Homo sapiens: one gene and its partners. The protein of the gene in region 4 purifies or fractionates together with the protein of the main gene of each other region. This does not show direct contact. Each region holds a gene or a part of one and is shown on either strand. Other genes may lie near its edges.

Region 1 (3,568 bases), on a different chromosome or scaffold from region 4:
TATCTCAGCAAAACAATTCAACAGGCACGAGGGCCAGGTAAATCTGCTGAAATTGATTAAATTCACCATAGGTTAGAATCAGGAATAAATAATTAAAGTCAGTTTAATTGATCAGCACACACCTGAAGCTTGAAGAGAAATAAAGTAGTTTCCTTTCGTGGTGACACTAGTGGCAGTCTTTTTCAGCACACGCACTGTTTAAGCCTCTTCCATGTTATATACACATACTTGAAGACTGTAGAGGAGGTTATGAAAACCAGATAGTCAAGCAGCCATTTCTTTCTGAACACCTTCCTTTGGTAGGTGGTAAGGGTGGAAAGGATGCCTGGAGCCTTGGAAGGCAGAGATGGAGGATAAATAACAGGGCTTCCCGTAGGCTGTGGATGCTCACAGCACACCCCTTTAGGCATCTCACTCTTTTGCCTCGATCGTAGACAAGCTAGAAGATGGTGAGAGGGTCCGGGCCCTGGGCCTCAGGAGCCCAGCTGTGAGGGCATCCGCTCTTGTGGGTGATTCTTCCAGCCCGGCGGTGGCACCGGTGCTTGTCCTTGGTGCTTTTACTGTGTTTTGGATTAAGATGGTTCCAATATCAAGGACCGCTGATCCTCCAAATCAAATTCTAAATGAGGGAAAGAGCTCATGCATGTTGTCGTTTAAAAGATGCTTGGTCATCCATTTAGCACAACTGAATAAATGTTTAATTTCTAGTAATCATCAGCATTCATCATTAGAAAGAACACTTTCTGAAAACAATATGTTGAAATCTGGGTGTTTTGTCCTGTGGATGTTAGAGGAAAAACTAGGAAGTTTCTTTAGTGTTGCAGAGAAATTGATTTTTTTTGTTGCATTGTTGTTAAACATTAGAAATTAAAATGATTTTTGAAACCAAGAAAAATTATTCACCCCAACCTCGTGGTTTTGGGATTTATTGAAAGACCAGAATGTCTGCTGAAATATGAAATCTGGTGTTTTGATTTGTTTGGATTCCTTGCCAGAATTTAAAGACTATGATTAATAGTTTATTTCTTATTATTCTAAATGTTATTTTAAAATGGTTAAGCTGGATAAATAATTCCATTAATCAAAATAACAGGAAATGAAAAAACAAATGGCGACCTAATTTGTCTCATTTTTAGCTGTGGCTATTATAATGCAAATGATGGAGAAATCACGTAGGTTGGTACATTTGAATATATGCATAATCTATTTTCAGTATCACTTTCAGAGTCTCAGCATCACAGATCAGAGTTTGAAATTCAGCTCATTTGCTTAAGCTTTTCTTATTTATTAAACCAAACAAGCATCTTAAAACACATTTTCCATTTTCTCTAAATATAATATGCTACCAAAAATCATGAATTAGACTTGGCGAATTACCCAAAATCCCCCCAGTCACATAGCCTTTGTTTACTTATGGTTTGTTGGGTAAAGGTTTTAGTCAGTAAAGCATTGTGCATAATTGGTCCTCAGGCACTTAGCATTGCCTGCGTGGCTGACCACAAGCCCTGTTTACAGGCTGACCTCCCTCTGAAGGCCGAGAGGTGCCCCGTGTGTCCTGGGGCATGGCAGGTTTTTTGTGTGCGGGGCATCGATCCACACCCACCACTACATACACATTTCCCTTGCCTTACTAAAAGAAAGAGAGAAAGTGGACCTCGTGAAGTCCCAGTAGTCAATATCCATCCCTAGAACACTGAAATACCTTCAAGAAAGATAGTATGTCTTTCAGCATTACTGAAAAGCCCACAGTTCACAGCTGCAGAAAAGAAAAGCGAAATCTTCCGAAAGCTTCTCATGTTTTGACTACTCTTTCCCTTCCAGGAAGACAAGGCGATGGTGGGCGTGCTCAAAAGATTATAGTGTGTCCACTTAATTTGAATATTTCTCTGCCTCCTTTCTTCCCTGTTTTATTCATTTCTTAAAAATGCTCTAGGGCTGCTTTATTGAATAATAACATGGTGGCCTCCGGTGAATCAATAACTTAAAGCAACTATCTTAAAAAAATGAGGTATTGGAACACATCCCTTCAGTTATGAAGAGAAAATGGGCGTCTCTGCATCTGGATTTGTGAACACAATTTAACCACCTAGTTGTTTGGCTTATCCCGACTTTGCAGTGCTTCCAAAATAAATATTTTTAAAGCCTTCTGAGCCCTGTAATATAAAACGTTAGCCCTTCATGGACGGAGGGCCGTCTTCCTGTTGCCTCTGGAACAGTCCATTGATGCCTAACCCAATGCAAGTCTGTGACTTCTGGTCCAAAAGAAGAGCTACCCAGGTGGATGTGCCCTGGGGGTGCTGTCCATGTGCAATCTAGGCACACACAGCACCTGTGTTCACAGGCATCCCCTGCCCGCCTCTTACGGTCCCTGACGTCTATGTTTGCTATGCAGAGACGGTCAAGGCCAAACACCCAATAGCTAACTATAACTCCCAGTTTTCTTTGGTAAACACGAAGACCATTTTCCTTCCAGAATGTATTTGGAATTGGTTCTTAGTGAGCCCTGTTGATGATGAATATTTCCCATCAGAACCTCAGAGATGTCTTCACGGCCTGACGTCACTGTACAAAAATGTAAAACAGTCTTTGTCCGTTTACTGCAGGAAATTCACCATCTACTTAGGGAAGTTTTATCACATCTCTCATTCCATTACTGTTTCCTACATTTCAAATAAACTGCTGTCTCCACCACTTTGCCCACCCCCTAACCCCTCGTAAAATTTTGTCCAGTATCTTTCTGACTTCCACTACATGCCAACTGGTAGATGTCACAAACACAGAGCCAGCTGTAAGTAGGAGTTTTCTGGAACTATTAACTAAAGAAAAGCCCTTAATTCATTATGTCAACCAGACCTTCCCCCACTCCGCCATTATTTCTGGGGTTCCTATAGGCATAGCTGGAAACAGAATTTTACACGAGTCCCTTAGTTTATGTATGCATGTTAATTTCCACTGGTCAGTTTCACTTCATCAAGATTTTAGCTGAAGGTTAATGCAGTTAAGTAAGATTAATCTGGCCATACTGTTTCTGTCCTCAGATTGTAAATGCTATTGTTCAAACAGGGATGCTTCAAATGTCATTGGAGAGCATTCTCTGAAAGCTGTGGACCCCCATTTATGCTTGGTTTTCTCTCGCAGTTCACTTTAGAATACTCCTTCCCTTTTTCCAACTTGGTAATTGTTTATGGAAATGGGTGAACACGCTCTGAAGTTCTGACAGACCTACGTGAGAGCCGTGCTCTTCTTTTTGTTTGTATGACCCCCAAATTCAGCCTTGTTTTGGAACTACCGTTCACTTGTAAATCTGCTTTGTACTATACAGTTTTACAATCTGGCCGCCTCCTCATCTTGCCAACTTGTAACCTTCTCTCCAGAGCTGGTTCAGACACTATCATCTGCCATTCTTACATGTGAAACCATTAGAGAAGCCTAATGATCCTTTCTAAATCACACTGGAAATGATTCGTTTTCAAGCTGCCTCTCTTTAAGGCAGGAAGGCACATTTGAAATACTTGCTGCTCATTTTATGAAATGAGTTACAGCTCAGGTCAGGGGGTCTTCGCCTACT
Region 2 (3,568 bases), on a different chromosome or scaffold from region 4:
GCATTGTGTGCCTAAATCTGAGCTGCTTCTTGGATAGAAACCTTCGGGTTTTCCCTTAGTGCTCCCCTTGGGGTCCCTTTCAAAGCCCCCCACCCCCCACTGCATGCTCAGGGAGGAGGGTTCTCTGGACAGAGGTGTGAATTGTGTCTCTAGTTCCCAGGGGACCACATCTTTCCGTTGTTTGTCCCTTGCCTCCATCATCCAGGGTTGGGGAGCTGCTGGGTAACCTTTCTGGGGAAGGGGAGAGGCTCGAACAGGGAGGGAGGGGAGAGCTGGTCTCAGGGAGGAACAAGTGGCATGACCTAAGGCCCAAAGGCAGAGATATTGACTTGCCTCGTCATTGTTGTTGAAAGCCAGGAAGCCAAGCTGCTGAGGGTGGCAGCCTATGACAGGAAAGCGCCTCTCCCCTCTCTTAGGGCACCCTACAATATCAGGCGCAGCTCTACATCAGGGGACACCGAGGAGGAGGAGGAGGAGGAGGTGGTGCCATTCTCCTCAGATGAACAGAAACGGAGGTAATGGAATGGTGCCTTTTGGGCATCCCGGGGGGCAGGGCAGGAGCCTGAGTCTTCGAAGACTGCTGGAATGAATTGTACTGGTTGGGGTGACAAAATGCACAACACGTAGGCCATCAGCGGTAGCCCACGGAGCATGAGAATAGGTGTCATTCTCTGAGTGCCAGAACCACCCACTCAGTGTTGGACCAGCTGAGGGGCCCTTGAGAACCTTCTGTGGGGTAGAACCTAGGTAATGTGGGTCCGGGGAAAAGCCTCCTCATGTGGAGGCTCTTCAGGGCTCTAAATCGGTTTGTTAGAAAGGGCCCTGAGACAGTTGAACAAAAATATTCAGGGAGAAGCCACCTGCACAGTGCCCTCTATCTGCATGATCTGCATGCCTTGGGGGTTCTGAATGCCCCGGACCCCAAACTGAGCTCCAGGCATGCACAGCAGTGGGAGTGTGCCCCATGCTGCTGAAATTCTACCCTAGTCTCTGCGCCAAGCTGCCCTCGTCCACACAGGCCAGCAAAGTTCCATGGACCCTTGCCCCTCCTCAGTCCTCTGTCCATGGGGACTGACCACATACCACCCAGTGCTGGTGAACTATGACAGGAAGGGTTTGTTAAGCACCTTTTGTATGCCTTTGGCTTGGGGCCTGTACAGCAGTTGGGCCCTGAGGAAATAAAGCCCTCCCCTCCCTGGGCTCAGCCAGCCACCAGGTCCATATCTGCTGACCCATCTGTGGCGCAGGAATCACAGCAAAGCCCCATTGCCAAAGGCCCTGGCAGATTGGCTATCCTCAGGGAACAGTTCACAGTGGCAGGGGCCCCCAGGCCTGGGTGGAGCAAGGAAAAGAGCCAGAAGCTAGGAGCTGCCTAGCATTGAATGCCAGCTCTGCCACCTGCTAGGTGAGTGCTCTTGGGCAAATAATGAAAGCTTCTTGGACTCAGTTTCCTCATCTGTAAATCACAGAGGATACTAGCGTCTACTTTCCTGGATTGAGAAGAGCAATAAGCCAATGCGAGGATGTTGGCATCTGGCGCAGAGCCGGGCACATGCCACATGCTCCATAAACATGGGCTGCCCTTCCTTCAGGTTCTACATTTCCTTTGAATAGTCCTTGGAGCAGGTGCAAATCTGGTTTCTCTCACCCCTTGCCTCCCTGGGGTGGCCCTAAGTCACCCCGAGTCCATCCCAGGCTAGGCTGGCAGAGCATGTCCAGCTTGGCACCCATCAGATGCTCCCCCATCCCGTGTCACCCCAGGTCAGAGGCTGCAAGCGGTGTTCTGAGGAGGACAGCTCCCCGGGAGCACTCCTACGTCCTGTCAGCGGCCAAGAAGAGCACTGGGTGAGTTGCCACCAACTGGCTCCAGGCTCTAGGACAGCTCTCCTCTCCTCAGAGCTCCAGCCTTCTCTGGCTGATGAAAGGGTGGGTGGAGAGATCACCCCCAAGGGCCTTCCTAGCTGAGCCTTCTCAGATTCTCAGATGTACTTTCTAGAAAATGGAGAGGTCTGGCGGCTACCACCAGGGACAGTGAAGTGCCGGGAATGGAGAGGGCCCAGGACCCTCTGAGGTAGAGCGGTCTTGATGTCACCTGCCCACGGGCTCTGCCCAAAGCATTGCCTTTCTGCTTCCTTTCCAGCAGTCCTACCCAGGAGACACAGGCACCGTTTATCGCGAAGAGGTAAGTGTCATCAAGGGACACCTTGGAGGCCTGTTACTGGCCACAGGAAGGCCTTCCGTCAGCAGGGGTGTAGTGTGGGAGCTGTGGAGAGGGGATGTGGATGTGGGGGACTACTGTCCCTGAGCAGGGGGAGTTGTGAGGGGCTGGGGGCTTCTGTCTGGAGGCCTGGCAAGCACCTGGGTGGCTGTGGTAGCATATGTGGTCAAGCTCTTCCATTTGCCAATGGCTAATGGGGCTGGGCCCCTGACCCAACGTGGAGCATTTCCAAGGCCCTCTGGGAGTTGTTCCCCTGCCCCTGTTGCTTGCCTGATGCCTTGCCTTCTGCTCTCATCCAGGATCAAAACCTGGGCCATCAGGAGAACTTCCCCTGGGAGGTGACTGTGACATTGGAGATGGGCCCTAAAGGGTGAACAGGGCTTAACAGGGAATGATCAGAACGTCGGGATACTCCAGCTGAATGAGGGAGGGGTGTCACCATTAGTTGAGACAGGGCACCTTCTGGAGGAGGAAAATATTCGGGGGAAAGCAAGAAAGAAACTTCTGGAAACTTGAATTTGAGGGACTTCCAGTTGAGTGGACAGGGAAGGCCTCTCTCTGTGCTGAGGTGGCTAGCTGGGGACTGCAAACCCAAGAGAAGACAGCATGCCAACTGCCCCAGGCAGAGGGCCCCAGTGCACAGGCCCGGGGTGGGACTAGCTTGCTGTGTTGGAAGACCAGGAAGTTGGCAGGAATACAGAGAGCAGGGATGGTGGCAGCACAAAGGAAGTGACAGAGAACGGGGGGCGGTGGGGGGGTCTTCCTGGCTGCATTTGGTTCCTGTGGTTTCTGTAACGCAGTACCAAAAACTGAGTGGCTTAAAACATCAGAAAGGGATTCTCTCCCGGTTCTGGAGACCAGAAGTCTAGATCAAGGTGTTAGCAGGGTGGGTTCCTTCTGGAGGCTTTGAGGGAGAAACCATCCCAGGCCACTCTCCTGGCTTCTGCTGGTGGTTGGTGATCCTTGGTGTTCCTCGGCTTGTACCTGCATCACTCCAGTCTGTGCGTCTGTCTTCACATGGCCTTCTCTTCTCTGTGTGTCTGTGTCCAGATTTCCCTCTTCTTACAAGGACAGCGGTCATTGGATTTAGGACCCATCCTACTCCAGTATGACCTCATCTTACCTGATTACATCTGCAAAGACCCTATTTCCAAATAAGGTTACAGTCACAGGTTCCAGGGGACATGAATTTTGGGGGGACACTATTCAACCCAGTATGCTGTCCTTATCCTGAGCTGGAGTCACTGAACCCCCAGCCTGGGCCACCTCTTGGCCGTGATCCTGAAGGGTTGGGTCAGTTAGACGCCACTGGAAGCATGTTCTTTGAGGCCTCCAAGCTCTAGGGCAGCC
Region 3 (3,568 bases), on a different chromosome or scaffold from region 4:
CCAGTTAACATTAAAAAGTCATTTCATGTATTTTTACTTTTACTTAGGGAAGAAGTGTTTCCAGGAGAAGAACAGAGATTTCATGATTTTATTAACTGCATTAACAAATTACCACAGCTTTTTTGAATAAAGGCTGTACTTGAATGATGCTAGTTTAGAACGTTGTTATTCCAGTGTGTTTGTAAGAAAAGCAGCATCAACATCACCTGGGACTTGGTAGTCAATTTTAGGCCTTACCCTAGACCTCTATAACCCTTTTTTTTTTTGAGACAGAGTCCCGCTCAATTGCCCAGGCTGCAGTGCAGTGGTGTGATCTTGGCTCACTGCAATCTCCAACTTCCAGGTTCAAGCGATTCTGCTGCCTCAGCCTCCCAAGTAGCTGGGATTATAAGCGTGCACCACCACACCTGGTTAATTTTTGTATTTTTAGTAAAGACGGGGTTTCACCATGTTGGCCAGGCTGGTCTTGAACTCCTGACCTCAGGGGATCCACCCACTTTGGCCTCCCAAAGAGCTGGGATTACAGGTGTGAGCCACCACCCCAGCCTAGACCTATATAATCTAATCTGCATTTTAACAAGATCATCAAATTTATGAATCACCTTGTGTTTTTTAATCACCTTAAGTTTATGTATCTCCTTAAAATTTCAGAAGCACTACTTTAGAGCAAAAAGAGATAGGGGAGCACCTCTAATTCCAGCTACTAGGAAGGATAAGGAGGCGGGATCACTTGAGCCCAGGATTTTGACACCAGCCTTGGCAAGAAAGCAGAACCACCATTTCAGGGAGAAAAAAGAAAAAAAAAAAAAAAAAAGATAGGGGAGAGTGGAAACTCCTGACCAAAATCACCTTAGTAAATTTTTCAAAATACATCCTCCTTCTTGCCCATCCAACTTACCAACTACTACTATGTACATTAAAAAAAGTAACCATATGACAAATTAGCTAACATATATTTTCTCACCAACAGAAGACGGATAATTTTCAATGTCATCTCTGAATTACTGAAAAATTTTTTTTAGTAAATTCCCAACGGTTTTTAGCAGCTCACCTAGTCGGAGACACTGCCGCAAAATTCCTCCAGATGACATACTTTTTTCAGCTTCAATTTCAGTAAAGCCAAGAGAACTTGCAAATATAAGCACATCCACAAGGCTAATTAGCCTCTGCAAAAATGTCACAGAGGCTTCTATTGAAAGGCCTTGAGTAGGTTCAATATTTTCCAGTTCATGCTGTAAAGAATAAAGTTTGACATTTATATATATATATTCTGAAAAAAAAATTTTACCAGATATAGTCCTAAAATTTATAAATTGCATAAGTAGTCAGACTTTCAGAAACCTAGTAACACAGAGTGATTTATACTTATTATTTCATCTAAAAAGGGTGGGGGATGAGGAGGAGCAACAGAACCATACAGGTGAAACATCATGAACCACATTCTTCACTAGCTGACTCATACTTAGGGAATCAACATTCTTTTAAGTTCTTTCATTACTAGAACAGATTCTAAGGTCCTCTCAAGTAAAAGATCCTATTGTTTTTTATTTATAGCACCTACGATGCATAGTAACCACCACATTTAAGTTTTAGTCAATAAAGTTGCATAACACTCATGTTTTCACACCAATTTTCTATAGTAATTAAGTCCTTACTGTAGCCGATGTAGCAGCTGAAAGCAATGGCAGTATACCCCCACAAGCCATGACCATATTGTCCATCACTTGAGAGATGAGATGAATTGTGTTGTGTACAAAGATGACATTATCACTGCTATTCACGAAGTCCATAACTGTCTTTGTTGAATGGCTGTCCAAAGATAAATGATATTTACTGATAAAGCTAAAGAAAGGAAATCACAGTTTGCCTACTTGAGGGGAGGAAAGATAAGAAGGTGCTTTTGCTTCATCTTGAAAACTGAAGGAAGATGATGCAGCAGGCATTTGGAGGGTGTATACTTCTTCAGAAGAAACAGACCATTCCATATCAGTAGTTACTATCCATGCCCTCCTTCAGTGCTGAAACATAAATACTATTCATTTTACACTGGATATAAAAAGTTGAAGAAAATTATCCTTACTGGGAACAAAACTAAGAAATCATGTGACAAAAATTAGGAGGTAAATACTGGTAAATGTGCTATTAAAAATGAATTTTCTTCTGTAATGCCTATAAAATGCTTTTAAACATAACAAGAATCTTACACAAATAAAAAAAAATAAATTAGGTCACTTTAAAATCATAAATCATACAATGGGGGATAACTTGAAGTACACAGATTTTTTTTAATGCTAAAAATACATTGGAAATATTGATAATGTTATAACAATTTTTTTTTTTTTTTTGAGACAGAGTCTCGCTCTGTCGCCCAGGCCGGAGTGCAGTGGCGTGGTCTCAGCTCACTGCAAGCGCCACCTCCCGGGTTCACACCATTCTCCTACCTCAGCCTCCTGAGTAGCTGGGACTACAGACGCCCGCCACCACTCCCAGCTAATTTTTTTGTATTTTTAGTAGAGACAGGGTTTCACCGTGTTAGCCAGGATGGTCTCGACCTCCTGACCTTATGATCCGCCTGCATCGGCCTCCCAAAGTGCTGGGATTACAGGCTTGAGCAACTGCGCCCGGCCTATACCAATTATTTTTTAATACTTCTAGTAATAAACCAACTTGATAAACCTACCTTCTGGTGAATTCCGTGCCATAAAATTGCTACAGGAAATCTACTACAAATTTTTTTAAAAGAGAAACCTCTGCTTTTCACATTTTTGTAATCCAGATAAGGATTCCATTCTTATAATGGAGAATAAAAGTGAATTCAGTAAAACCCTACCATAGAATAATTTCTATTCTACTTTTTAACCAAATGTCTGAAATTAATTACAAACTGTTTCTATGGATTTCTTTGAAAATAAAGACTAGGTTTATACACATCTTCCATAATAAACATATAGACAAACCTTCTCCACATCTGTATATCTGTTTCTATTGAAAATAATAGATCAGTGAGCAAACGTTGATGCATCTGAGACCAGTTGAACTCAGGAATACGAAACACAGTAGATCTGGAATCCCTCCTTTGTCCATTAACTGCATCTGGTGCTATTCCTTGCCCTGGCTGCTCATGTTGCCTTGATATCTAATACAGAAATTTAAAAAGTAATAAAATAGGTTCAACTTCAGCAGGAGGCTTTAGCAAAGTAAATAATTTAGTAGCTTCTATGCAATTCATCTAACACGTTTTTAAGACACTATAAGAACCAAATTAGAGAAAGAAAAATTATCAATGAGTAATAACATTAACATTTTAGTACATGTAAGCAAAGCTATCAAAAGTGCAAAACTACCACAATTTAAAAGTAATTAACTTGGAACCATGTTAAGTATTACCACTATGTAGCATTTTATAAAAGAATCAAGTAACAGTTCTTAGTTTTTAGCCTTAGCCTAAAAGAAAGGCAGTATTTAGAATCTAAGTGGCATTTGGATTATGAAGTGGCTAGAATGAAGAATAAAAACAGAGATAACATAATGAAGAACCAACCAACAAAAACAAAAAAAAGGAGGGTGG
Region 4 (3,568 bases):
ATTGGAGGGTTTTTTGTTTGTTTGTTTGTTTGTTTTTTTGAGAAGCAGCAGCTGCATTTGTAAAAATGTGAAAGTGCCAGTTCAGAGGTGTTGTAGCTTGCCACCTTGGAAGGCGTGTGTGTGGCCGTAGCTCTGTGAACACACGTGTGAACCCGGCGTTAGGACACCCGGGCCCTCCTTCGTAGTGTGAACACTCTGGCCGTGTCCTGCAGCTTCGCCTTCTTAGCTCCTTGCTGGGATTTTCCAGCATCCCTTAGACTTGTCCTCTTTTGTCCTTTGGGTCTGAGGTCACACTGGGCCTCTTGGCTCTCCATGGAGCTCAGTGTGGGTGTGTCTTGCCGGCAGGCAGGTTCCGGGGCCGCAGCATCCCCATCGCCCACCCGGATGTTCCTGGGGCTGTAGGCCGCCAGCTGGCACAGGGCCACGGCTGCCGTCTGCTTCTGCTCCTCGCTGCTGTCCACCGCGCATGCGTCTGGAGCCTCCTCGCCGGGGCCTGTGGGTGGGGCCCCGTCACCGTCGAGGCTGCCTGGCTTGGTCTCAGGGTGGCTGGGCCCATCCTCAGAACCTTCTGTCCCAGTCTTCTGTGGAACAGCAGCAGCAGGTTCTGCAGCTCGTGGTCGACCGGGGAAGGCAGGCCTCGGAGCCTGGGTGTTACAGGGGTCCTTCACCGAGAGATTGAGTGGAAGGTCCTGCAGCTCTGAGAAGCTGGCGGTTTCCGCCTGGGGGCTGCCTTGGTACGTGGGTTCGTGGGTGGCTGCCAGGTTTATCTCTGATTTCTTGGAGAGGTTGAGGGGGCCCATCCCGGAGCTGTCGTCCGGACTGGAAGGCGCGGCCTCCGAGACGAGAGAGGCGCTTCCGGTCGGAGCAGGAGGGTCTCCGTTCACAACATTGAGGCTAGAAGAAGCCAAGAAAAAGCTTAGTAGGAGCTTGCTTAGAAAAGCAACTGCGTGAAGCAGTGTGAGCAAGTATAAGCCTGGCTCATGGAACCCAACCAGAAACATTCCCTTGGAGGTTTTGAAAATGACATTTTCTTACCTTACTGGAGACTCTGCTGTGGTCTCAGCAGCCTGGGCAGGTAGGCATTCTGTGCTTTTCTTAACAGGCCTGAAGGCTGTGAGGCTTTGCTCTGGCGGGTAGAGTCTTCCCAGTGCGCTGGAGGCTGCCTTGTTGGAGAGGTCGTACAGGCCTTCGCAGGTCTGGCTCGTCTGCATGAAGTCGGTGGGGCTCGGCCTCCCTGGGGAGCCCGTGGCTGCACTCCCTGCGCGGGGGCTCATTTTGGACCCTTCCGTGTCTCTCTGCCCAGCCTTGGAGGAGTCTTTAGCCTCAGGAATTGGACTTTCGAACTCGACGTGTTTTCTGTTGGGGTCCGAAGGGTTTAACCTGGAAGGACTCGAGGCTGGATAGACCAGGGTGGCTTCTTCAAGCAGGTGAGAGCTCTGATCTCGGGTGAGGCCAGTGACAGGTGGGAGTCTGAGACCATAGGAGGAAAATGCAGACTCTGGCCTGTAAAATCCGTAAGGAATCGGCAGGTTAGAGGGATATTGCTGGAAAAACCTGTAGTGATCGTATGTGGCTGGAGATGGAGCCAGGTGCTTAGGGATCGGCCCCGGGTGAGGCAGGAAGTGTCTCGGGTCTTGGGTTCCGTAGACTGACAGCAGGGGTGCGTCACACTCAGGCGAGCTCCCAGCCAGCAGGTAAGGCGAGTAGATGGTGGCCAGCCCGTGCTCTGTGTAAAAGTGAGGCGGGTACTCTGGGATTGTGGGGTGCATGTAAGGGGAAATGGCCCCAAGCCCCTTTGTAGATGAGATTTTATGTGGAAACTCTGGTGGAAGGAAAGGTGAGCCGGCTTTCCAGGGGTAGCCAGGAGTGTGGAAGGCCGACTTGGTGTGGAAAGACACGGCCTTGGCAGTGGGGTTGTGTAAAGCCAGTGTCTCGGGCGCCTCGGCGTTGTCTGGCCCCTTGAGTCTGTGCTCGCCGACTGGAACAAATGCAGAAGGCCGAGCTGCGCCTTCCAGAGCAGGCTGGGCACCGAGGGCGGCTTCCGGAGCTGGGCTCTTGCAGGGTGATGCCCTGTGGAGGGCTGGCTTCTGTCCCAGGCACCTGTGGGTTCCCCGGGCTTGCAGCTCCAGGTTTTCCTTGATGTCTTCCCTGGCAGAGCTGTGCTGAAGCTTCGAGTCGAAGGCAGAGAGTCCATTTGCGACAGACTTGGAAGAGGCTGGCTTCGCCGTGGCATCGGGCTGGTTGGTTTGCTTGGGGTCTAGTGAGTTAGATTTAGGGCACTTGGGAACTCGATCCTGCTCTGATACTAAAGTAATCGAGTTTTTACAAAGACCATACTTCATGTGATTAAAAAGATGTGACTTCTCATTGCAAGTAAAGGGACATTGGAAACATTTATACTTGAAGGGCTTTCCTGGAGGCCTGGGGATGTAATGTGGCTTTTTTGGCTTCCGCTCTTTGAGGAGACTCATTTTCCTCCTTATGCCTTGGACTCTGGCTGTCCAGGTGGCGTGATCACTGTCGACGCCGCGTGCACTTCGTGGTTTCTAAAGAGGCACCTCCCGCTTTGCTTTCTTTCCCGATCACTTCTATCAGAAGCCAGCTCTGCGTGCTGAGGGTCTGGCGAGAGCCTCCGTCATCTGGCGGCTGGGAGCTGTAATAAAGAGCAGTCTTGGTGTCAGGACAGCGAGTGAGGGGTCGGCGAGAAGCCGGCCTCGGCTCGCCACAGTGCCACAGGATCCCTGAAGCAGAACCCCTGAAGGGCTGAAACTGCCTGCTCCTGAGGGGAGCAGCTGCCGGTCACAGAAGCAGCCCTGCCCTACCCTTGGTAACCTGGCTGCTGACTCCCCACCGTGTTTTCTGTTTTCTGAGTCTGATCTGAAAGAGTCACCTCGGGGCCTAGAGGTGGAGTGTGGTGTGTGGTGCGTTGAGTGTCTGTTCTGAGAATGCCTGTAAGCCTTTGAGTTTTGGGAACTTTCATCCTGTGACCTGGACCTTTCCTCGAAAGCGCCCTGCCGGGGGCTGAGGACACCGAGCCCCCTCCCAGGGTCTGGACAGAGTCCTGTCCCAGGGCTGCCCGACTCTGCTTGGGGGTTACACGCTTGAAGCAGTGGGTGTGTGATCGGCCACACTCTCACGTGAAATACGAAGGGGTTTGTGGCTGTTTCCCCTTAACATGTACCCACAGTCACAGAGTGCCCCTCACTTTTACACAGAGCGTGGGCTGGCCACCGTCTACTTGCTCCTACCTGCTGGCTGGGAGCTCTCCCAAGTGCTGTGCGCCCCTGCCGTCGGCCTGTAGAACCCAAGACCATGGATGCTGCTGCCTCCCCTGGGGCCGATCCCTAAGCACTCGTGGCAGTTTCTGCCCACTTTAGCCACGTCGTTGGTGTATTCTAGTGTGCTTGTTTAAAAATGAAGAACATTCGAACACAAGACTCTACCCTACTGCTTCTAAAGTCAGCTTTATCATTAAGTAGCATTTATGTTGTCTCAGATATGAATACAAATGCTATATTTATGTTGACTTAAATGGTTGAAATACTGTTGGTGAATTTGTACATCCTGT

Evidence for each region.
Region 1: the proteins of ZNF750 (region 4) and ZNF516 purify together in Homo sapiens (affinity purification with mass spectrometry, with the first as the bait; one study listed by BioGRID). This does not show direct contact.
Region 2: the proteins of ZNF750 (region 4) and ZNF185 purify together in Homo sapiens (affinity purification with mass spectrometry, with the first as the bait; one study listed by BioGRID). This does not show direct contact.
Region 3: the proteins of ZNF750 (region 4) and LRBA purify together in Homo sapiens (affinity purification with mass spectrometry, with the first as the bait; one study listed by BioGRID). This does not show direct contact.

The regions. Positions count from the first base shown.
Region 1 is NC_000018.10:76,362,690-76,366,257, reverse strand, and holds part of ZNF516 (zinc finger protein 516), read left to right. Parts: intron 1-3,568. UniProt on the Homo sapiens protein: Transcriptional regulator that binds to the promoter and activates the transcription of genes promoting brown adipose tissue (BAT) differentiation.
Region 2 is NC_000023.11:152,918,567-152,922,134, forward strand, and holds part of ZNF185 (zinc finger protein 185), read left to right. Parts: intron 1-416; coding exon 417-515; intron 516-1,761; coding exon 1,762-1,845; intron 1,846-2,140; coding exon 2,141-2,182; intron 2,183-3,568. UniProt on the Homo sapiens protein: May be involved in the regulation of cellular proliferation and/or differentiation.
Region 3 is NC_000004.12:150,847,767-150,851,334, forward strand, and holds part of LRBA (lipopolysaccharide-responsive and beige-like anchor protein), read right to left. Parts: intron 3,137-3,568; coding exon 2,958-3,136; intron 1,810-2,957; coding exon 1,656-1,809; intron 1,233-1,655; coding exon 1,052-1,232; intron 1-1,051. UniProt on the Homo sapiens protein: Involved in coupling signal transduction and vesicle trafficking to enable polarized secretion and/or membrane deposition of immune effector molecules. Involved in phagophore growth during mitophagy by regulating ATG9A trafficking to mitochondria.
Region 4 is NC_000017.11:82,829,984-82,833,551, forward strand, and holds part of ZNF750 (zinc finger protein 750), read right to left. Parts: intron 2,654-3,568; 5' UTR 2,472-2,653; coding exon 1,036-2,471; intron 895-1,035; coding exon 159-894; 3' UTR 1-158. UniProt on the Homo sapiens protein: Transcription factor involved in epidermis differentiation. Required for terminal epidermal differentiation: acts downstream of p63/TP63 and activates expression of late epidermal differentiation genes.